Linked DNA regions of Homo sapiens. The protein of the gene in region 3 interacts with the protein of the main gene of each other region in a pairwise test. Each region holds a gene or a part of one and is shown on either strand. Other genes may lie near its edges.

Region 1 (3,500 bases), on a different chromosome or scaffold from region 3:
GCATCTTTCAACAGTAGCATGGAAGCGATTCAAGAAGAGTTAGGAATAGAAGGAAAAATTGGAGCCATTTGCTACATAATTGTAGAAAAGACTTTATGGTGATTTCTGAACATTTCCAATGTTTAAAGACAGTTGGGATAAAACATGGATTTATCATAGCTCCTCTTTTCCAGGTAGCTTGAAATTAGTCTGCATCCTTTTTTAGTTTCTTTGGTTAAATCTGCATTTATCTCTTATTATCTCAAACCACACCATTCTTCCTAAGAAGTTCCAGTGGCAAATACTTTCTAGTCAGCAAGGTAGTTTCACCACACAGTTAATTACGTATAGTTTTAAAGCAGTCTGCTAGTTTCAAGACAGGCACTGTCTGCATTTCCTATGAAGAATTGTTAGACGAACCTAAAAGATTACTAGGTATTCAAGATCAAGATCAATGGAAATTAGATTAGCCAAAACAAACAAAAACCAAAACTCTGTATGTTCTTTACCATCTTTATTTTATTTGTTCTTCACTGACATTTATTATGGCAAGTACTTGTGGTTACTGGTTTATATGTGGGAAAGATAGCAAAGAAAGGGGTGACAGAGGAGGTGGAGAAATGAGGTCAGAAATTGAGCATGGCCAAATGGATAAAATGAGATATGATAGCACCTTTAATAGCCAGATATGAAATTATGTATTTTTCGTGACTGAATTAATCATAATAGTGCTAGTGCCAAAGACATAGGAAAAAATTATCAAAATATCTTTAGTAAATAGTTTGAGAGTAAAGTAACAATATAGATCCCAAAATTATTAGGGTGTTTTGAAGGTAGAACCCTGCATATATAGCTAACATTTTTCATTTCTTATTCTATTCTAATTCATTGATCGTGACTCAAAAAATACAGATTCAAAACTGTTTACTAGTCAGATATGTATGTTCACAACAGTCTGACAAAAATAAAATTAGTGTTCGATATTTAGCTGATATTTAGGATTTGAAATATGCAGTTATCTTCTGTGAATACAAAATTGGCACTTGCTGCTTGGGTATGTGGCCTTAATTCGGCAGTGCCAGCACCCACAAAGCTATTGACTGTTGGGATCTTTGTCCGTAATTAGCATTAGCTGCCACCAGTAAGTTATAGCATTTTGATAATGGCTTAGTGACTGAAGAGTTAGACATCTTATAGGCATAATTATCTTAAACAGAGATTCAAACATTTTAAACATGCTTTTCTACCCCCTAAAAAGGCACATGACTTATTTAATACAAAATTATTTTTAATTGAAGTCACAATGAAATTTTGTAAAGCAAAAAATAGAAAACTTTCTTAAATTTCTCAAACTACTTTGCATTCAGTATGCCATTTAATCTTTTTAACAGTTCTATGACTATCCCCATTTTAATGCAAAAAACTAAATCCCAGAAATTTTAGACTTATACCAGTTACATAGCTGGTATTTTAAATTCTGACTTCAAACCTTAAGTACACGTCCCTGAAGGCTAGAAAGTTAATTATTTCAGTCACTACTTAATGTAATAGAGGATTCCCTGAAAACTGAGCAAAATGTTTTCTTCAGTTCCCTGTATTCAATATCCTAAGCAGTTTATGGTATATAGCCTATTCAAAGGAAAAGAGAGCATGGATAAATTTTAACGTATATTTCACAGGATAGTTTTGATGCTTCTAGATTTTCCTTGATGAAGTGACATAATGAATATATTTTTTATAATTTAGATTAGTTTCTGGATGATACATCAGTCCTAAGTTGACTACCAACTTTGGGGTCTTCATAAGTAACACAGTAATGACATTTGGCACAGGCTTGATCTCTGAATATAGAATTAAGACTGCAAACCAGCTCTGTTTCAGGAATTTAAGTCATAAGAATATATAATCAGGTTGCATCAGAACAGAAAGAATAATTTTATTGCAGCAGAATCTGTCACAGTGTGTAGATGTGAGCATACATTTGAATTGTATACTTACACTCTTATTCATGAAAAAATCTATTTTTAGAGTAAGTGGTTAAAGGGATGATTACATCTCACATGCGCATTTAATCATCTTGTCCACTATAATTTTGCTGTCTGGTCTCAGAAAGGGAAAAAAACTTTGGACAATACTTATTACTTTATTGACTGTGTTAGTTTCTTCTTCTTAAGTAGACTGTTGTCATCTCTTTTCTTTTGAGTCCAATTTTCCTATAGTTTGTTTATGTCAATGGCTCGACAAAATGATAAAATATATTTCCAGAAAGCACATGGATTTGGAACTCTCTCTTGTTATGTTTATATTAGGCTTTATTTTAAAGGCAAGTGAGACTGCTTCAAATAAAACAACTTCAAGCTTCCAAGAAACAGTTAAGAGGAGGCAGAGAAGAGCAGAAACACTTCTTTGCTGACACTTACACTGTTGCCATGGACCTACATAAGCAGTGGGAGAACACAGAGACTAACTGGCATAAGGAAAAGATGGAATTACTGGACCAGTTTGACAATGAAAGAAAGGAATGGGAAAGTCAATGGAAGATTATGCAGAAGAAAATAGAAGAGGTACACTTTAATTTGTTTTGGATATACTGTAATGTTTAAGTGCAGGATGAAAATTCTGTGGGCTGTTTTGTATTGGAAACTGTTTTTGATTTCCTTATTCGACCTAAGAGGTACATTTCTCAGTGACATTTACTAGAACAAAAATAGCATAATCTTATCCAATGGTATTGTAAGGATTATTTTATATCATTGCATGAAAATTAAGCATTTGAAATGTCACTCTATAATGTTTCAACTTATTATTTTCTGGCTAGAGAGCTTTTTTATCAAAAGTGAGGTATGTATTTTGCATGAATTTTCAAATACCAGGTCCAGGAGTAAAATGCAAGAAAGATATACTTGGTGGGACATAGATTAGCAAAATTATAGTTGGGCATTAGAACATAGATCTTTCCTAAGAAGATTTATGAGTAATGTCTATTAAAGGAAATTACATGTTAGATAATGCAGTATAATCAAAAGGAGTATCATATATCAAACAGAAAATGGCAGTAGACATGAGATTTATTCTATCAAGGTGTGCACATTTAGTGGCATATTTATTGGAAAAGGAGTTATGAAAAATGACATATCACGACTCTGACACAGTCATTTTGTTCCCGTTAACCCTCCCTCAGTCCGTTGACCCTGAAATATTTCCTTCAAGCATTTGCATTGATGTATATTCAAGCTTTTGCACCAATTGGAAATAATTTATGCTTATCTTGCTTTCTTTTGGTAACATCCTTAGTATTGACTTTATATGGTTTTATGCACATTACCAAAGTTGTTATTTTAAGACTTCTTGGCCTTTTTTGCAGGCAAAGTAAGTGCTTTATGTGTTTATAGTACAGTCATGTTTCTTATTAACAGCCATGTAATTGACTGTGAATAAAATATGAATTGGCATAGTAGGAAGAAAGCTGAAGAAAAGTAACTATTAAGCCCTTCCTCTAAAATAGAGCTGAGAAGGCAGGC
Region 2 (2,966 bases), on a different chromosome or scaffold from region 3:
AAGTAGGAGCACTCAAAACATAAAAACCCTATACTTACAAAATATGACTATGGTGTGAGTTGAGAACAAATAAAAATTACGTTCCTTGGATCAAGTAAGGGACAACAGAATGTCCCATACTCTCATCCAGGCATGGTGGCTCATACCTGCAATCCCAGCACTTTGGGAAGCTGAAACAGGAGGATAGCTTGAGACTAGGAGTTCAAGGCTACAGTGAACTATGATTGGGCCACTGCACTCCAGCCTGGGTGACAAAGCCAGACTCTGTCTTAATAAATAAAAACAAAACAAAAAGATAAATAAATAAAAACTCTCATTACTTAAGATTTTACGACAATCAGTACAACTCAAAACCAATGATTTGGCTATAAATTTTAACTTTCATGCAAACCCCAAACAACCCTAAAATATGTTATTTGGAAGAATTACTTTTAGAACCACCAAAATTCAAAGATACTATTTAAAAATCCAGAAATAAAAACAAATTTGAATCATACAAATTTTCAGTATCATTTAATTCTTTAATACTTTGGGGACATTTCCTTTTCCTTTAACAAAAAGAATAGAAGTGATACTATATACTGCTAGTAGAAAATTAAGAGCTTTTCTATAAAATCCTATGAAATTAAAATTAAATCGTCTTATTTTTAAAAATGCAAAAGAAGCCAGACAGTAGACTTAACAACCATGAAGCAGACCCACTTCCCTCTGAACCAAGGATTTCCTATGCTTTTTAGATATCCCTTCAGAAAAGGCCTTCTCTAAATTAACTGAACAATTCGGAATACCAAGAAGTAGGTAGAGAGCAGGAATGTGAGCAGATCATCGAATATATGTTTTTACTCCATGGTGACTAAAATGAAGTCCATAGATAGGAGCAGGTGAAGAAGAAAACAACACAATCTCCTGATGTACAGTTGTCACTGACCCAGAGCAGTCTGCTGCTGTGACTCTCTCTGCCTGTGACCTGAGGGTCAGTTGCTTCATTAGATGCAATGGAAATAAAACTGAACGGGATCTGAAGAAAAATTTTAAAATGGAAGGTACACCTCAATAGTTTTTACTTTTGGTGAAGTCATATGGTTTCCACCACTGAGCAAACTGCAGTGCTTTTTTCCTCTGATCCTCAAAGCTTTCTCGGATGCCTTTCCTCCAAAGTCTTGGTTCTATATCCAGCATCCCACCTATGATTTCCTTTTAAAGAAAGAGAAAAGCACAAACACAAGCATGTATAAATAATGAAAACAGAAATGAAACTATTTCTGTTTATTCTGCTATAAAATATAACAAGTTCTTCTCCATGACAATGTTCAAGCATAAATACTAGTTGAAGTTAAAAAAATATGTTTTCAGTTAATTCTAACTAGGCAAACCGTGTGATTCTAAGAGTCCAAGTTAGCTGCATCTCCTATCAAGCAATTTGTCCATTTTGTTGCTTATTAGCACATCTACTAGATGGTAACAAAGGGGAGGGAAAACAAGTGAAATTTAATTAATATGATCTCTATTAGAGGCTCCCGTAAACAATTTTGCAAAAATGTTAATCAACTTCTAGCAATTATTAACTTTACTGCTCAACTGCAGTTGAATCCCAAGCTAATGTTCTCTCTCTGCTACCAAGTATATTTATAAATTAGTTTCTTCCACTATTAGCAGAAATCTTTTTTCATGAAACAAAATCCTATTGTAATACTAGTTTAAGTAAACCTATTGATAGAATTAAAAATTATATATCACTTTCATTTAAAAAATCACATTCTCAAGTCCCATAATAAATGGCTTTTTGGTTATCTGATTATTATTCTTGATTTCCTTCATGATCCTCTTCCTGTGCTGTTAGCTATAGAAATAAATCAAATTTAGGCATGTGAGTATCCATGAACAGAAAGACATGGGGGAGCCTCCTAATGCTTAAATGCTTAGAGGGAGGGCAGTATGGTAACAAAGCAAAAAACAAAAAACAAAACAACAACAACAAAAAACAGACTAAGGATCAAATTCTGCATAGTCGGTCTAGCTCCACCAGACTGTGTGGTGAGATCCTGCACAAACCACATAATCTTTCAGATGCAGGTTCTTCATCTTACTTAGGGACCTACTATGCAGAAGCAAATGCCGTATGTTGTAGGGGATACAGAGATTGTGGGGTGAAGACACACAGTTGTCTTCAGACAGAATAGAATCTGGAGCTGTGGTGGGAGGAATAATAATCCAGCTATGCAGCAGACTGTCTCATAAAGTAGAAGGTAAGTGTCAAAGCAGACCATTTGTGGAGACTCAAAAAAAAAAAAAAAAAAACAATCTATTTGTTGGCCAGACCAGGAGATGCTTCATGGAAAAGGGAATCTCCTGTCATCAGGGAAGGGAAATAAAGGGGTCAACAGAGATAGTAGAAAAGAGAAATAGGGCAAATTGAGATTTAGTTCAAGAGTTTCTCAGCATCGGTCCAAATAAGCAATGTAGTTTAAGAAAGCCTAGCTTATAAAAGTTTACCTAAAATTGTCTATAAAATACCAAGTTTTGTCTTACATCTACCATATAAGCTTGACTCTTGTTCTGTTATCAAAGCAGCTGTTAATGGAAAGACTATCCCCATAATCTCTTCTTGCTCTCTGAACAACTGCTTCAGCAGCAGACTGCAGGGAGGTCTTGAGCCCACAGGCTATTTCTTAAAAAGCAAATTTTGAGGAAAATGGCTCAGTGACGCAATGCTGACAGAGAAAATTTACTTTTAACTCCAAAACTGAATCATATAAACCAGAATGCATGAATAATATGTGAAGAAAGGGCAATCTCCCAGTTTAATATATACAACTTTTTAAAAATGGATATTTTACTTCCTTTTTTCTAGGACCAAATTTTTGTTTTGTTTTGTTTTTCTGTTTTTGTTTTTAATAAATCCAGCCATAGAGCTTTTGGTTATAAAGCTCTACTGTATAACAACAGGATTTTTCAGAACAGTGAAA
Region 3 (3,500 bases):
AAAATCCCAATAAAACTAATTCAACAGACTATTTAAAAAATTATACACTGTGGCCAAGTGGGATTTATTCCTAGAATAGAAAGATGATTCAACTACAAAAATCATTCAATGTAATAAACCACTTCATGGAAAACCCCCACTATGATCATCTCAATTGATGCAGAAAAGGCATCTGACAAAATCCAATATCCTTTCATGATAAAAATACTCAATAGAAATAGAAGGGAACTTCCTCAACTTGATAAAGGCCATATATAAAAACTCATAAAAATCATAGTCAACGATTCAAAGGCTAAAAACTCTTCCCCTTAAGATCAGGAAAAATTCCCCTTAAGATCAGGAAAAAGACAAGGATGCCAGCTTTTACCATTTCTATTTGACATAATACAGGTACTAAAAATTCCAGCCAGAGTACTTAGGCAAGATAAAGAAATAAAAAGTATCCTAATTAAAAAAGAAGTGAAATTATCTTTTTGCAGATGACATGATCTTATCTGTAAAAATCCCTAAAGAGTCCACAAAATATTGTTAAAGCTAATAAACACAACAGTTACAGGAGACAAACACACAAAAAACACTGGCATTTCTATAAGCTTGCAATGAACAATCTAAAAACGAAATTAAGAAAATAACACATTTGCAACAGCATCAAAAGGAATAAAATGCTTAGGGAAAAAAAAAACCAAGAATTTGAAAGACATACATGGAGGCTGAGTGTGGTGGCTCACACCTATAATCCCAGCATTGGGAGGCCAAGACAAGAGGGTCTCTTGAACCCAGGAAGTTGAGGCTGCAGTGAGCCATGATCGCATCACTGCACTCCAGCCTGGGTGACAGTGAGATCCTGTCTCAAAACAATAAAAAACAAAAAGAAAGACTTATACGTGCAAAACTACAATACACTGCTCAAAGAAGTTAAAGAAGTCCTAAATAAATGGAAAGACACCCATGTTCAAGGATCATAAGATTTAATATTGTTAAGACAGCAATATTACTCAAAGGCATGTACAGAATCAATGTAATCCCTACTAAAACTCCAATGGTACTTTTTATATTGGTAGAAAACTGCATTTAAAATTCACATGGAATCTCAAGGGATGCCAAATAGTCAAAACTATCTTGAAAAAGTTGGAGGACTCACACTTCCTAATTTCAAAACTTACTACAAAGCTACAGTAATCAAAACAGTGTGGTACTACCATAAGAACAGAAATAGAGACTAATAGAACAGAATAGAGAGGTAGAAATAAACAAAAATATTTTATGATTCCATTTATATGATGTACTTAGAATAGTCAATGTAAAGACAGAAGGTAGAATAGTGGTTAACAGGGGCTAGGGGGAAGAGAATAATGAGAATTTATTGTTTATCAAGTACAGAGTTTCAGTTTGGGATGATGAAAAAGTACTAAAGGTGGATAGTGGTGATGGCTGCACAACAATGTGAATGTACTTAATGCCGCTAAACAGTACACTTAAAAATACAGTTAAAATTGCAAATTTGGCTGGGCCAAGTGGCTCACATCTGTAATCCTAGCACTTGGGAGGCCAAGGCAGGCAGATCACTTGAGCCCAGGAGTTTGAGGCCAGCTTTGGCAACAAAGTAAAACCCTGTCTCTACAAAAAATAAAAAAATTAGCCAGGCACGATGGCACACACTTGTGGTCCCAGCTACTCAAGAGTGTGAAGCAGGCCAACTGCTTGAGCCCAAGAGATTGAGGCTGCAGTGAGCCATGATTGTGTCACTGTGCTCCAACGTGGGCAACAGAGTGAGACACTGTCTCATTTAAAAAAAAAAAAAAAAAAAGGCTAATTTTACATTAGGTATATTTTACCACAATTAAAAAAAAATTAACAGAATACCATATGACCCAGCAATTTCACTTCTAGATATATATTCAAAAGAAATGAAAGCAGGAACTCAAACAGATAATTGTTAACAACAGAACTATTAACAATATCCAATATCCAAAAAGTGAAAACAACCCAAGTGTCCATCAAGAGATAAAAATGGATAAATAGGCTAGGCGCGGTGGCTCAACGCCTGTAATCCCAGCACTTTGGGAGGCCAAGGAGGGTGGATCACCAGGTCAAGAGATCGACACCATCCTGGCCAACATGGTGAAACCCCATCTCTACTAAAAATACAAAAATTAGCTGGGTGTACTGGCGCACACCTGTAGTCCCAGCTACTCGGGAGGCTGAGGCAGCAGACTCGCTTGAACCTCGGAGGTGGAGGGTGTGGTGAGCCGAGATCGCACGATTGCACTCCAGCCTGGCGACAGAGCGAGGCTCTGTCTCAAAAAACAAAAAAACTTAAGAAAAAGGATAAACAAAAAGTGGTATATAGCCATGTGTCACATAAAGATGTTTCGGTAAATGATGGACCGCATATACTACAGTAGTCTCGTAAGATTAGAATGGAGCTGCCCTACATAGGTGTACCATTTTTTATCTTTTATACTGTATTTTTAATATACCTTTTCTATGTTTACTTATGTTTATTTTCTTTTTTCTTTTTTTTTAATGGGTACAGACTTTCTGTTTGGGGTGATGAAAGATTTTGGAAATAGTGATATGGTTGTATAACATTATGAATGTAATTAAAGACACCGAACTGTACCCTTAAATATGGGTAAAATGGAAAATTTTGTTATATTTATTTTAGCACAAAATGGGGGGCACTGAACAGACCCCTTACCAAAGACAACATATGGATGGTAAATAACTCCTGGAAAAGATGCTAACATCATTACTCAACAGAGAAACGCTAACTAAAACAAGGAGATACCTGTAAGAATGGCTACACGTCCCTGAGAATGGCTAAAATTCACAAAACCGAACACACCAACTGTTAGCATTAATGTGGAGGAATTGGAACTCTCATAAACTTCTGGTGAGAATGTAAAATTATAAAACTATTTCCTTTTTTTTCTTTTTGAGACAGAGTTTCGCTCTTGTTGCCCAGGCTGGAGTGCAATGGTGCGATCTCGGCTCACCACAACCTCCGCCTTCTGGATTCAAGTGATTCTCCTGCCTCAGGCTCCCAAGGAGCTGGGATTACAGACATGTACCACCAGGCCTGGCTAATTTTGTATTTTTGGTAGAGACAGAGTTCTCCATGTTGGTCAAGCTGGTCTCGAACTCCCGAATTCAGGTGATCCATCCACTTCGGCCTCCCAATCCTTTTTTTAATTTAACCTTCATCCCTCTCCTCCTCTCCCTCTTTTGAAGTCCCCAGTGTCTAGCATTTCCCCCTTTATGTCCATGTATGCTCATTGTTTAGCTCCCAGATACAAGTATTTTAGAAAATAGCTTGGCAATTTTCAAAATGTTAAACACACATCTACCACATAATCTCTATCCGTTCCATTACTAATTATTTACCCAAGAGAAAAGAAAGCTTCTTGTACACGAATGTTCGCAGCAATTTTCACTGTAATAGCAAAAACTGTAAACATGCCATATGCCCATCAACAGGTGAATGCATAAACAAATTG
Region 4 (3,500 bases), on a different chromosome or scaffold from region 3:
GAACTGCTAAGGGCACTCTGAGTTGCATAGGTACCCATTTCAGTAACCAATTTCTGAACTGGCCCTACAGTTATTTCTTCTTCAGGTTTTAATTCACCAGCTTCTTTCTTTATTTCTGACTCTACAATTGGGATCTAAAAGTCAATTGGAAACATCATTTTAGTAATAGTATCAACAGCAAGCAAAATTATCTTTAAATATTTGATTGTTTCTCTAAAAAAGGCATTACCCTAATGGGATTTTTGGAACTGGGAACTCTGCTTTCAATTTATTTCCTTCCCAGGATAATGTAGTAGGTAGAATAGGGGCTTCAGAGATGGATATTCCAGGGTTTGAATTCTCACTCTGCCACTTACTACTTTGGACCTCAGTTTCTTAATCTGCTAAGTGGAAATCTTAATTCTTTCTACACATTTTACCTAATAGAAAAATGCATTGGACAGTGTCTAACACAAAGCAGATGGTCATTAAGTCGTATTCCTCTTCTTCATTCCTTTCCTTGAAATTTTAACCAAAACAGTACTCATCCTTCTAAAATGAAATAAATCCGACTTATTTGTACATAATAACCTCATCAACTAACTTTTAAATTAACTGAATGGCTATTATGTATTTATTACTCAATACCAGTCCATTACCTAATATAAGAGCACTAAGAGTATTTAATCATTACCTATTTTAATTTATTTTATAGGTGAAAAACACTGATGTCAAGTTAGGTTGAGGAACTTATATTCAAGGTCCTCCAGCTAACTGTCGACACAACAATGACTAGAACTAATTGTCAGGTCTCCTGATAATTAGTCCACTGTTCTTTCTATTCTACCATAAGGTTGTTAGGATGAAGAATACTGTCAGTTTTACTGCATAAATATTCTGAAGTCAGACTTACTCTAAGGCATTCTTCCTTCAGAATACAGGCTAAAGCAGAATTTTACAAGCTACTGCTTCTTTTTTTTTTTTTTTTTTTTAATAAACACAGAACATTTTGTTCAAACAAAATCTAACTCAGAAGTGTAAATAATGTAAGCAAATCACTATAAAAAGTCAGATTTTCCTAAAGGAAAAATTACCATATAAACTAACATTTACTAAAGTAAAACATACCTCTCCAAGGGACCTGCGGATCTCAGTCATCACACTCTGAATGTCTTCCTTGGTACTACAGTATTCTCCCAGGATCCATAATGCTCCTCGGTAAATCCTAGCACAATACAAGATCTGAAACATGAACTTGGCAGACAAATCTTGAAGCAGAGATCTTTCTTTGTTAATTTAAGCTCAAATAAAAACAAGGGCCAGGCACTCACGCCTGTAATCCCAGCACTTTGGGAGGCCGAGGCGGGCGGATCACGAGGTCAGGAGATCGAGACCATCCTGGCTAACATGGTGAAATCACGTCTCTACTAAAAATACAAAAAAATTAGCCGGGCATGGTGGCGGGCGCCTGTAGTCCCAGCTACCCGGGAGGCTGAGGCAGGAGAATGGCGGGAACCCATTCTCGGGAAGCGGAGCTTGCAGTGAGCCAAGATCGCGCCACTGCACTCCAGGCTGGGTGACAGAGCGAGACTCCGTCTCAAAAAAAAAAAAAAAACAAGGGCCAGGCACGGTGGCTCACGCCTGTAATCCTAGCACATTCGGAGGCTGAGGCCAGCGGATCACTTGAGCCCAGGAGCTCAAAACCAGCCTGGGCAACATGGTGAAACCCCATCTCTACTAAAAATACAAAAATCAGCCAGGCATGGTGATGCACATCTGTAATCCCAGCTATTGAGGAAACTGAGGCATAAGAGCTCCTTGAGGCCGGGCACAGTGGCTCACGCCTGTAATCCCAGCACTTTGAGAGGCTGAGGCGGGCGGATCACCTGAGGTTGGGAGTTCAAGACCAGCCTCACAAACATGGTGAAACCTCGTCTCTACTGAAAATACAAAAAAAATTTGCTGGATGCAGTGGCACGCACCTGTAGTCCAGATACTTGGGAGGCTGAGGCTGGAGAATCGCTTGAACATGAGAGGCGGCGGTTGCAGTGAGCCGAGATCGCGCCACTGCACTCTAGCCTGTGAGACAGAGCAAGACTCCATCTCAAAAAAAAAAAAAAAAAAAGAACTGCCTGAATCCAGGAGGCGGAGGTTGCAATGCCCTGAGATAGCGCCACTGCACTCCAGCCTGGGTGACAGAGCAAGCTTCTGTCTCAATAACAAAAAAACAAAAAACAAAAACCAACAAGATTCTGCAGTTCTAAAGTATTTTAGATAAATATTTCAGAAAGAATCTAACAAAACCTAGGTTTCAGTTCTCTCCAGAAATCACAAAGATTAAAAGTAAAATAACTGTTCTTATTATTAGGAACATTCTAAAACTGGTAAACCTAGCAGTAAAAATAAAATACCAAAATGTTTCCCAGTAAAGTGTCCATTTAGGACACAGTGAAGGCAAATTTGGCTTAATCTCTTACTACTCTAAGAAATGTATTATTTTATGGCCAGACACTGTGGCTCACACCTGTAATCTCAGCATCTGGGGAGGATGAGGTGGGAGGATTGCTTTAGTCCAGGAGTTCGAGACCAGCCTGGGCAACAAAGCAAGGCCCTCATCTCTCTTAAAAAAATAAATAAATAAAGTAAAAACAAAACAAAAACAAAAACAAAAAATCAGGAATGTATTATTTTAATGTAAAAAGTAATTCACTTTTTATTTTCAGTCACTGAAGAGGCAAGGTGTTGAACTGAACAATGGATACAGAAGAAGTACAAGGGATCAGTAAAAAAATAATAGTAAAGAAAGCAACCATTCATTCATTCATTTAGATTAAAAAAATAAATAGAGACAAAGTCTCACCATGTTGCCCAGGCTGGTCTCCAACTCCTGACATCCAGCAATTCTCCTGCCTTGGCCTCCCAAAGTGCTGGGAATACAAGTGTGAGCCACCATACCCAGCCAACAATTCTTTAGTTTAAAATGTTAAACTGAATAAAGTCCTTAGTCATCTTTCCCCTAAGATTTTAATTAAATTTATTCAGAAAAACTTAATTATAGAAACCAAAGCTCTAAGAGATTATGGCTGTCAAAAACAAATTCTTAATGTCATAGCTCTTTTAAAATTTGTTTAGCAGGCTTTCTGGTTTTTGCCGGAAAGCCCTCTCACAAAAAAAAAAAAAAAAAAAAAAAAAGCAAATCCTTAATATGATTTTCTTCTCACAAAGGAAGCAAATCCTGCTCTGCTCACTTCCATAAATATTAATATATTTTCATATCATAAAAACAATTTTGTACTTGTCCCTTCCTTCCTGAGACATATTTCAAGTCTGTTAGAGACTATCCATCAGATGCTTTAAATGAAGCAAAATTTAGATGCAACAGTCCTTTCTCATTAGCAAAGGCTCTCTGAAGGGAAAGACAGATTTAGGTTGCATTTTCAATCTTTCTCTTCATTAAATGTGAAAGGAAGATATAAATAATAGTAATAGCCAAAAAGTGATGCCATTTAAAAATATGCTCT
Region 5 (3,948 bases), on a different chromosome or scaffold from region 3:
AGACTCCATCTCAAAAACAAAACAAAACAAAACAAAAACCTCTCATTTGCTGCTTGTAGGAGTGTAACTTGGTACACTTACAACGAAACAATTTTTCAATATCCCATAAAACTACCTTTGATCCATCAATTCCACTTCTAGTTATCCCTTTCACATGTGCTAGGGACACAATTCTTGGACAGTCATTGCAGCAGTGTCCACAATGACAAAACAACTGAAAAAAAAAAATCTAAACCAGCCATCAGTATGGGAATGGATGAAGAAACTGTAGTTAATTCATATAACAAAATGCCATAAAACAATTAAAATGAATACTCTCTATATGTAAATCACTGATTAATTTCAAAAATACAAGCCTGGATGAAAGAAAAGCATACTGCAAATGGATCTATTCAATAGGATACCATTTACATAAATTTTAAAAACACATAAAAACAATTTTATATTGTTATGAATACATACATAAATAGTACAAGCATAAATAGTGCGTGGGGGCTGGGCCTGGTGGCTCATGCCTGTAATCCCAACACTTTGGGAGGCAGAGGCGGGAAGATCACCTGAGGTCAGGAGTTCGAGACCAGCCTGGCCAACATGGTGAAACCTCGTCTCTACTAAAAATACAAAAATCAGCCCAGCATGGTGGTGTGCACCTGTAATCCCAGCTACTCGGGAAGCTGAGACAGGAGAATTGCTTGAACCCAGGAGGCGGAGGTTGCGGTGAGCTGAGATCGCGCCACAGCTCTCCAGCCTGGAAGACAGAGCAAGACTCCATCTCAAAAGAAAATAGAAAAAAAAGCATGGGAATGATAAACACTTCTGAGGAGAAAGGAGGGGAAAATTAAGAGGTAGGGGGCAGGGCAGTGTTGTTATATATATATATATATATATACACATATATAAAAAACACAATTCTCAAAAAACACTGAAGATATCTGAAGCCAATCTGGCAAAATGTTAACATCTAGTCTGATGGTGGGTACATATGTACCTGTCACATTGTTTTTGTAAGATTGAATTACCTCATAACTAAAAATATTAATAAAAAAGATAAAATGTTTAGAACATACAGAACAGTATAAAGGAGAAAATAAAGTTTACTCATAATTCTATCCCTCCAACATTACCCTGCTAACATTTTGGCATATTTCCTCTCTTCTTCTTCTGAGCATATTTTAAAATATTTTAAAAACATAACAGCCCATTGTATGTACAATTTTGTATCCTGCTTTTTTTTCTATTATAAAAATCTTTATGGTGTTTAAAAACACTGAAATTTCTTTTTTTTTTTTTTTTCAATTTATTTTTTGTAGAGATGGGGTCTCGCTTTGTTGCCCAGGCAAGTCTGGAGCTCCTGGTCTCAAGTGATCCTCTAGTTTTAGCCTCTCAAAGTGTGAAATTTCAACAATTGTTGAAATTGTTGGACACGATAGGGGAAAATAAGTTGTATTTGAAGTGGAATAATAATACCTTGAATAACAGTATTCAAGGTACTTGAATACTATGATTTGAATCATGTCTGTCTCTGAGTCAGCTTGAGGGTGTGAGCCCGGACATATGTGTTGTCTGGTATAAACAGCTGTCCTTCATAGACGGTCTTAAACTTTTGAGCAGAGCAAGTGAGTGTGTGTGTGTGTCTTTCTGTGTTTAAGGCTTTTCCTATCCAGTTTTTTAAGAAAATGAAGGAAAACATACATATACCCTTAAAATCTATTTCTTATAATCCACATTCGAATTCAATAGCTGTTTTTAAGAGAAGAATCAGTGCATTAAGTTAACTGGGCACAAGAAATTGTGAAATTTAAAAGGAAGAAGAGTGTGAAAATGACAACTTTTTATATATGTGAAGAAAGGAGGGCTGGGTACCGTGGCTCATGCCTGTAGTTCCAGCACTTTGGGAGACTGACGTGGGAGGATCACTTGCACGCAGGAGTTCCAGACCAGCCTGGGCAACATAGTGAGACCCTATCTCTATTAAATAAAAAAAATAAAAAATAAAAAAAAAAAGGCGGGGCAGGGGGACGGTGGGGAAGACTGGAGTCTAAAGCCACACAATCCTAAACCAATAGATAAGCATTCAGGAAATGCTCACCAAAGGTTTCATGTCTAGCTTTTTCAGTAGCTTCTTTTATCTTCTGGTCATGAACTTGAACATCCCAGGCTTCAGTGTCTCCCTATAAATGGAAAAACAGAGGAGAAGGGTTAGAGCCAGATCATTTTATTCAGTAATAACAATCCTACTTATTATTATTTTTAATCTCTGCCCCACTGTAAACGAGTTGTAGAAAATCTGGCTCAGGGGAGGAGAACCGTTGGTGACTCCAGGCGAGCTCGAGAGGGAGCATTATTGGCCCTGCAGGAGGCCGTTTGCTGCCTCCTGGCTCAGATGTTTCATCCTAGAACTCATCTCCTTTCCCCCTCCACGCAGCCCCTCGCCCGCATCTGCCGCTCTAACCCCGTCCCGGCCCCTGCCCTTTCACCCCAATTATCCTGTTTCTGGCGTTGAAGACCCGCTTCTGCCTGCACAGCTCCGCGTGCCTCCTCTTTGCCAGGTTGGCGTCCTGCCGCAAGTCCCTGGGCAGCGCCACCGCCATGGTCTGGGAACCCATGGAAAGCCTAAGGGGTTTTTAGAACACGCAGGATCAGGAGAACAGGCGACGAAAATAAGGAAGCTGTAGCGCAGGCAAGGTCGGCTCCTTCGGTCGGGCAGGGGAAAGACAAGCCTTTAGCGCAGTTTTCCGTCGGGCTCCCAGTGACGCCGCAGAGGTACAGACGCTCCCGCTCTCTCGGAAATGTCAACAACTCGTTGCTAAGGAACGGCTCCGCGCTTGCCGCGTCTCGCTCTCTTCTCGCGACACTTGGCGAATCCCTTCCCGCGCTTTTTCCGCGGGCGCTTGATAACGCGGGTGAGGCGTGGAGGGCGGCGCCATGGCCCACCTGGAGCTGCTGCTTGTGGAAAATTTCAAGTCGTGGCGGGGCCGCCAGGTCATTGGCCCCTTCCGGAGGTTCACCTGCATCATCGGCCCCAACGGCTCTGGTAACTGAGCAGCTCAGGGCGCCACCGGAGCGCCTCCGCCGTCCCAGGCGTCCAGGCCACACGTGGCCTGTGGGGTGTGGGCGTCTGCCGCGGGCGCCTGGCCGGCCTTCCCCTTCCAGTCCCGGAGCCTGACCGCGACCGGATCCCGGCCTGGCCCTGGCCCAGCCCCTGCCCATCACCCCACCTCAGCCCCGGTCCTCGCCGTCCACCTCAGGGGTCCCGACCCTTGTCCCTCCGCCCCACCTCGGAGGTCCTGACCCTTCCACTCGGCCCCGCCTCGGGCCCCGCTCTCGCCCTCCACCTCCTGGCTCCCGACCCTCCTCCGACACCCTGAGGGACCCCACCCCACCTCAGCTCCGGCCCTCGCCCTTCATCTCAGGGGCTCCCAACCCTCGCCCCCCACCCTGGGGGTCCTGACGCTTCCTCTCCGCCCCGGTCCCGCCCTGGGCCCTGTTCTCTGCCCTCACTCCTGCTTCGGGGACTGCTCTTGCCCTTGGCCCTGGTCACTCGCGTCCCTTTTCCCTTCTCATCCGAAGTTGAAGTGAGAGGGAGCTGTCGAGGAGGTAATGGGTTCCAAGCAGCCAGAACCACCATTTGGATCCAAGGGAGCTTTGACCCAGGAATGTAGTGATGATGACCCAGTTTACTGAGCTTTTCCTAAGTTCCTGGCGACACCGTCTTTGGTTAGCCATGGCGCATGGCTGCTCTCCCCATTTTATAGTTGGGGAAACTGAGGTCTGGAGAGGCCAGAGGACCTGCGGAGGTCTCTACTAATAATACCAAAATTAGCTGGGTGTGGTGGCACACGCCTGTAATCCCAACTACTCTGGAGGCTGAGGCGGGAGAATCGCTTGAACCTGGGAGGTGGAAGTTGCAGTGAGCCAAGGACACGCCATTGCACTCCAGCCTGGCAA
Region 6 (2,289 bases), on a different chromosome or scaffold from region 3:
ATGATTGCCCTCAGGCAGCCAAGCTCTGTCTTGTCCATCCTCATGTCACGCATTTTGGACACTAGCTCTGTCAGCACCCTGGAGAGGGACCTGCAGGTCACTCAAAGGTCACAGCTCAGCCAGCCTTGGACACGGACCAGCCTATAGCCCCACCCCCTCTATCTACATGCCAGCCTAGCCGAGGGCCACTGACCGATCAAAGATGGCTCCTACTCCTGCTGAATGGGCTGAGTTGCGGTGCACGTGAAGACCTGTGGCAAGGAGGATGCCATCTCGAACATCAATGGATCGGTGTGAGAAGGAGGCAATGAGGAGTTCATTCCAGCCTGGGTGGGGCAGCAAGGGTCAGGAGCCAGAAATCAGGCCAAGGGATTCAAAGCACATCAGTGGAAGAGAAGGAGAAAAGAGGTGGCGAGGTCAGCAAGTTTGGCTCCCTGGGTACGCAAGGTAAGGCCACTGGGGTCACTAAAGATCGGGAAGTCAAAGAGGGGTCAAATGTCAAGAAGTCAAAGGGATCCAAGGTCACTGACCTGCCCGCAGCAATATGACCTGATCATCCAGAGGCAAGGAGGAAAAGTGTGGGATCCTCTTCGCCCACTCAACAAGCGTGAATAGCTGTTTGTCAGCTGCCTGACAGATGTTAGTCACAGGGTCATTTGGCTGCAGGGGACGGGGGTAAGAGTTATGGAAGATTTTGAGATATGCTGGGAGCCCCCTTGTAAGAGGCTTTTGACACCCCCTCCTTACATATAGTCTTCCTGTGAGCCCCATCCAAACCAATCCCTGTAAGTGAGTCTTCTCTTCTGGCATTAGTGCAAACAATTATTTATTTGGGACATGCCTATGGTTCTGCCAGTGGGTTGTTTGGGGAGTGGAGACAGAAGGAGCTATCACATCCACCTCAGATGTTTGAAAGACCTTGTTTGGCAGCACCTCCAGTCCCAAGTAGTGTTAGGAAGGTTATGAGGGGAAAGGAGGGGGAGGGGATGTAGAACAGACCTAGACTGCCTCCCCCAACCCCCATCACGAAGGAGAGTGGATTGACCCCAACACTCACGCTGCTGCCGCTACCCCCGGTTCCCCCAGGACCCTCAACGCCCTGGTCACTCTTCTGTTCCACAGCAAGCTCTGCCTCCAGGATCCTGTCCACAGGCATCTCCTCGGGGGCTCCCCCAGCCCCCTCCCCATCCCCATCCTTGTCCTTTCCCCGCTGACGCTCCTCCTGTACCGCTGCAGGGGGAAGGGGGAGAGAAAAAATGGAAAGTCAGCAGCCAGCCATGAAGGGGTTCCACAAATATCCTTACGGCCTCATCAGGATCTCATGGCCCTTGGGAGATATTTATAGGAATTGGGGAAGTCACTAGAAAGGGTGGACTGGGGGCAGCCCTGAAGGAAGGGTTATAAAAGGGCAGGTAAGTCAGTCGGGAAGGGTGAGGTAGGTAAAAGAATTAGGGAGGAATTTAAATGGAGAGCCTACTACATGGTTAAAAAAAACATGCCAAGATTCAACCTGAGAAAGCTGATTGAAAAAAAAAATTTTTTTAAATAAAATATGCCAAGAAACATGCTAAGCACATTTTACCATTCACTCAATTATCATAATGATGCTGGAAGCATTTATTCTCATTTTTAAGATGAAGAACTCGGGGTTCAAAGAGATTAGTTTGCTTAAATTCATATAATACATGGCAGGTCATACAACTGACTCTAAGTGTGTCTGAGTGCAAATCTTGTGCTCTTCTGACTCAACAAATAGGCAGTGAAAGGAGCACTGGCCTAGGTCTTTGAAGATGTGGGTTCTGATCCCAAACCTGCCTGCCACTCCTTTGTTGCATGACCTTGGGAAAGCCAAGCCTCAGGCTCATCTTCTCTAAAGTGGGTGTTTTGACCAAGATATGCTCTAAAGTGTCTCTCAGAATCCTAGGAATCTGACTTAAGAAGATAAGATGGAGACACAGAAGAAGGAAGGGAAGCCCTGAGGTCTTCAGTAAAGTCTGTAAGCTTAAGAGTGCCCAGTCCCAGGAGTTAGAGGAAAGATCACAGATAACAGGAGACAGAGACCAGAGAAGGTCCATGGAATCAGAGGAGGAACCACTCAGGTTAGAAATGGGGAGACAGCCCATCATGGCTAAGGAAAAGTTATCCTATCCTAGGATCAGTCTAGGGAGGGGTCATATGTGCAGGCCACAGAGGCCTAACCATTAAGAAGGAAACTCAAGGGCCAGAACAGGGTAACAGGGAGGAGAGCTGCGAAGGGAGAGAGAAATCAAATATCGCCCTCTAGAGGAG
Region 7 (3,500 bases), on a different chromosome or scaffold from region 3:
CAGCCGCAGGATGGCCTTGGAGCCTTGCAGTTACAGGGCTCACGCCCGCCCTCTTTCTGGGGAGCCTGTGCTTTGGGGAAGTAGCCCAAAGGTCATGCTTGGGGCAGCGAGGCTGGCTACCCTTTGGGAGGGGCCTCCACTGTGTGGGATGGTGTTGTGGGGGGCTCTGTCCTCAGGGGCTAGGCCACCCTTCTCCCCATGCTGTGCAGGGCTGATCAAGTTGAGGGACTGGCCTTGAGAGGAACCCACAGCAAATGAGATGAAGAGAGTGAATGAGAGCTGAGGATGCCCCCCCTGGGACCAGAGAGCAGAGTGCTAGGGGCCGAGCCAGCTAGAGGCCACCAGGACAGCTGCGTGGAGCATAAGCCCTGCACCAGGACCCTGGAGGGAGACACCAGGCTCGGCTGCTTCCCTGGAGGGCACTAATGTGCCAGCTGACATCGGCCCTTCACCTACATTCCCAGCCCCAGAGCCAGGCCCAGGCTATCCAGGGGGGTCCATTTCAGAGCAAGAGGTGGGGAACCCTGCAGCAACACAGGCCCAGTGGTGCTGCCCTCTGGCACCCAGGACTCATGCCTCAACCTCCCTGTGACATGGCACCGCAGGGGGGAGCATGTCACATGCTGGTCCATGAAGCTGCAGTCCACAGCATCCCTGCTTTAGGGAGCTGCAGGTCTCCCTGGGCCAAGGGATGAACATGGAAAGATGAGTCATTAACAGAGATGGTGGGGGCAGAGCGAACACGGCCTGCCACGGGAGGTGGGCTGTGGGGCCTTCTGGGGACCAAATCCTGCCTGGAGCCCAGGCGACCAGGGATGGACGGGGTAGGGAGGACCCCTGGGCAGGAGGCAGCTCAGACAGGCACTATCCCTGCCCTGCTCCCTCTTGGCCACACAGCTCTCTCTGGGCTAAAATGAGAGGGCAGCTCTTGTGTGTGTTTTCCTACTGAGCAGGGTAAGGAAGAGAGGTGAGGAGAGGTAAGCCTTGTCTGCATAAACCCTCATACACCAGCCCCAGCATCGCCCTGATTCCCTCCAAATCCTAGAGAGGAAAATGCAAATGGCTTTAACATCCAAACACCCTCAGGGAGGAAGGGACTCATTTTCCACCTGGCCAGTGCAGCTGATCATTCCTGTCTGGACTTTCTTCTGTGAACAGTGATCCAGTCTCAAGGGTCTGCACTAACTGGCCACTCGCTCTGGCAAGAGTGGTCCCCCGTGGTGTCCCTGTACCTAGGGAAGTGATTGGAAACTACTGGGAAGGAAGGGACACCAGAAAGTAGGGTGGGGGCCAATTTCACCTGCCTTGAAAGCATTCTCGGGGTCAGCACCACGGGCAGCTCCTGCCAGATCCTGTGGATCCCTTGTGAAGTCCACGCTGGCCCGGACGATGCAGAATTTCCAGCTGCTGAAATTTATCAGGACCAGACAGTTCTCGGTGGCCCTGGCTACATTTGGTAGGTGCATAAACTATGGGATTGGTGAGCCAGTGAGAACGTTTGCAGTCACCATGCAAACACTTTCTTAGGGTCACTGGGCTGAGTCTTCAAAACGGATATACGGTAAGGCCAAGTGAATAGTATTGCTTTCCCTTATTGGAAAACTTCAGTTGTTTGTTTCAGGATAGAAACATGCATCTCCTGGGGAACAGCTTCAGGGGAAGGTTTGTCTTGCTGTCTTGCTCTCTTGCATGTGAAGTGTGGTTATGCAGAGGTTGCCTACACTGACACCAAGAGGCAGCACCCACCGCCCCTATCCCAGAATGAATATTAAAACATCCTAGAGAGCTGTAGAGAGCTGATCTGCAAGTAGATTGCAAAGCATGCATGCTCTTGGAAACTCATTCTGCCTAGTAACAAAGTCCCTGAAGTTTTCAACTTGCGGGCTGAAGTTTTGGATTTGGGGTATTTTCTTCCTGGAAGAGCTCAGAGCATTTTAAATGTTCTTCTGTGGAGCTTTGCCACAGGAATATGATGATAAAGCAAAAGAAAGCCCTGTGGGGAGTGGAATGGACTGACCCCTGGGATCTATGGAATGAGGCAGGGCTGCACCAATTCTCTAGACAGAAGGTGCTGCATTGGTGTCCTGGGGCTGCCATAACAGGCTGGGCGGTGCCAAGCAAGAGACATTTATTCTCTCACAGCTCTGGAGGCTGGAAGTCCAAAGTCAAGGTGTTGGCAGGGCCATGCTCCCTCTGACATTCTAGGGGAGAATTTATTCTTTGCTTCTTCCAGCTCCTGGTGGCCCCAGGTGTTCCTTGGCTTGTGGCCACATTGCTCCAGTCTCTGCCTCTCTGGCTGCATGGCCTCCTCTGCTGCTGTATCAGATCCCCTCTGCTTTTCTCTCATCAGCACACTTGTGATGGGGTTTAGGGCCCTCCTGGATGACCCAGGATCATTTCCTCATTTCAAGACCCTCCACTCAATCCCATCTGCAGAAACTCTCTTTCCTAATAAGGTCACATGCACAAGTTCCCGGGATTAGGGCATCATCTCTGGGGCCATGATTCTACCAGACCTGTGGCCAGTTGTCTTTTCTTACTGTAGGGAAGGGGTGAAATCCCTATAGAGAAGACCGTGTGAGGGGGGCCAGTTCACAGGCAGATGCATGTTCTGTTTTCAGCCATTGAAAGCACGGTTTAGACACAGGCTGAGCTACGAGCAGAGACTTCCATTCCAGGCTCTCCCCCTACCCAATACCTGGGTACTTCTCCACAGTACCCAGGTATTGGGTCAAATGTTATTTTAGATGTCACTGTGAAGGTATTTTTTAAAAATGAGATTAACATTTAAGTCACTAGGCTGAGTAAAACAGAATGGTCTCTGTTTTACTCCAGATGATAGGGTTGTTGGAATCCATGGTACTAGCTCAATCTTTTTAAATAGCTGAAAGTCCTTATTAAAAACATTTAAAGCTTTTTAAATAATCCCCAGGCCACAGCCCTGGGGAGTCTCGGCTCTCCCAAGTCTGGGCCTTTCTCACATGGTGAACGCTGATCGCCATTTCTCATGGACCCAGCTTCAGAGACACATTCTTGATTTCTCAAGAAAAGGCCTCCTCACCTAGCCACCAAGGCTGCAAAGACCTGCCAAGGCCACTTAGCTTTGGGCTGATTTGCACCAGCTGCCAGGAGGTGCAAATGGCGACAGGGACGCTGCGTGTGGGTTGACTGTTTAGCTTCCACAGCAGAAGTTTACTCTCCCACAGTCCTGGAGGCTGGAGGTCAGAGATGATGGTGTTGCCAGGGCTGGTTCCTTTTGAGGCCTCTCTCTGGGGCTTGCCGGTGGTGTCCCCTCCCTGTGTCCTCACAGGGCCATCCCTCTTGTGTGTCTGTTTCCTCATCCCCTCTTCTTATAAGGGCAGCAGTCAGATTGGATCAGATTGCATCACCTGTGTTGCCTCATTTAACCTTAAATACCTCTTTAAAGGCCTTGTCTACAAATACAATCACATTCAGTGAGACTGGGGGTTAGGACTTCGAGATAGGAATTTTGGAGGCAC

The links.
Region 1: the proteins of TRIM37 (region 3) and KIAA0408 interact in a two-hybrid assay, tested with the Homo sapiens proteins (one large-scale study listed by BioGRID and IntAct).
Region 2: the proteins of TRIM37 (region 3) and CWF19L2 interact in binary tests that used the Homo sapiens proteins (3 or more experiments, as listed by UniProt).
Region 4: the proteins of TRIM37 (region 3) and COPB1 interact in binary tests that used the Homo sapiens proteins (3 or more experiments, as listed by UniProt).
Region 5: the proteins of TRIM37 (region 3) and RIBC2 interact in a two-hybrid assay, tested with the Homo sapiens proteins (one large-scale study listed by BioGRID and IntAct).
Region 6: the proteins of TRIM37 (region 3) and RXRB interact in binary tests that used the Homo sapiens proteins (3 or more experiments, as listed by UniProt).
Region 7: the proteins of TRIM37 (region 3) and UBASH3A interact in binary tests that used the Homo sapiens proteins (3 or more experiments, as listed by UniProt).

What each region holds. Positions count from the first base shown.
Region 1 is NC_000006.12:127,452,890-127,456,389, reverse strand, and holds part of KIAA0408 (uncharacterized protein KIAA0408), read left to right. Parts: intron 1-2,288; 5' UTR 2,289-2,408; coding exon 2,409-2,543; intron 2,544-3,500.
Region 2 is NC_000011.10:107,325,860-107,328,825, forward strand, and holds the end of CWF19L2 (CWF19-like protein 2), read right to left. Parts: intron 1,195-2,966; coding exon 1,051-1,194; 3' UTR 501-1,050; downstream 1-500.
Region 3 is NC_000017.11:59,096,881-59,100,380, forward strand, and holds part of TRIM37 (E3 ubiquitin-protein ligase TRIM37), read right to left. Parts: intron 1-3,500. UniProt on the Homo sapiens protein: E3 ubiquitin-protein ligase required to prevent centriole reduplication. Probably acts by ubiquitinating positive regulators of centriole reduplication.
Region 4 is NC_000011.10:14,475,812-14,479,311, forward strand, and holds part of COPB1 (coatomer subunit beta), read right to left. Parts: intron 1,205-3,500; coding exon 1,108-1,204; intron 135-1,107; coding exon 1-134. UniProt on the Homo sapiens protein: The coatomer is a cytosolic protein complex that binds to dilysine motifs and reversibly associates with Golgi non-clathrin-coated vesicles, which further mediate biosynthetic protein transport from the ER, via the Golgi up to the trans Golgi network.
Region 5 is NC_000022.11:45,412,545-45,416,492, reverse strand, and holds the start of RIBC2 (RIB43A-like with coiled-coils protein 2), read right to left. Parts: upstream 2,801-3,948; 5' UTR 2,607-2,800; coding exon 2,478-2,606; intron 2,416-2,477; exon of another isoform or gene 2,267-2,415; intron 2,172-2,266; coding exon 2,090-2,171; intron 1-2,089. Other genes in the region: SMC1B (structural maintenance of chromosomes protein 1B), read left to right, coding at 2,926-3,034. UniProt on the Homo sapiens protein: Microtubule inner protein (MIP) part of the dynein-decorated doublet microtubules (DMTs) in cilia axoneme, which is required for motile cilia beating.
Region 6 is NC_000006.12:33,195,377-33,197,665, forward strand, and holds part of RXRB (retinoic acid receptor RXR-beta), read right to left. Parts: intron 1,231-2,289; coding exon 1,058-1,230; intron 661-1,057; coding exon 531-660; intron 327-530; coding exon 194-326; intron 91-193; coding exon of another isoform or gene 79-90; coding exon 1-78. UniProt on the Homo sapiens protein: Receptor for retinoic acid. Retinoic acid receptors bind as heterodimers to their target response elements in response to their ligands, all-trans or 9-cis retinoic acid, and regulate gene expression in various biological processes.
Region 7 is NC_000021.9:42,427,902-42,431,401, reverse strand, and holds part of UBASH3A (ubiquitin-associated and SH3 domain-containing protein A), read right to left. Parts: intron 1-3,500. UniProt on the Homo sapiens protein: Interferes with CBL-mediated down-regulation and degradation of receptor-type tyrosine kinases. Promotes accumulation of activated target receptors, such as T-cell receptors, EGFR and PDGFRB, on the cell surface.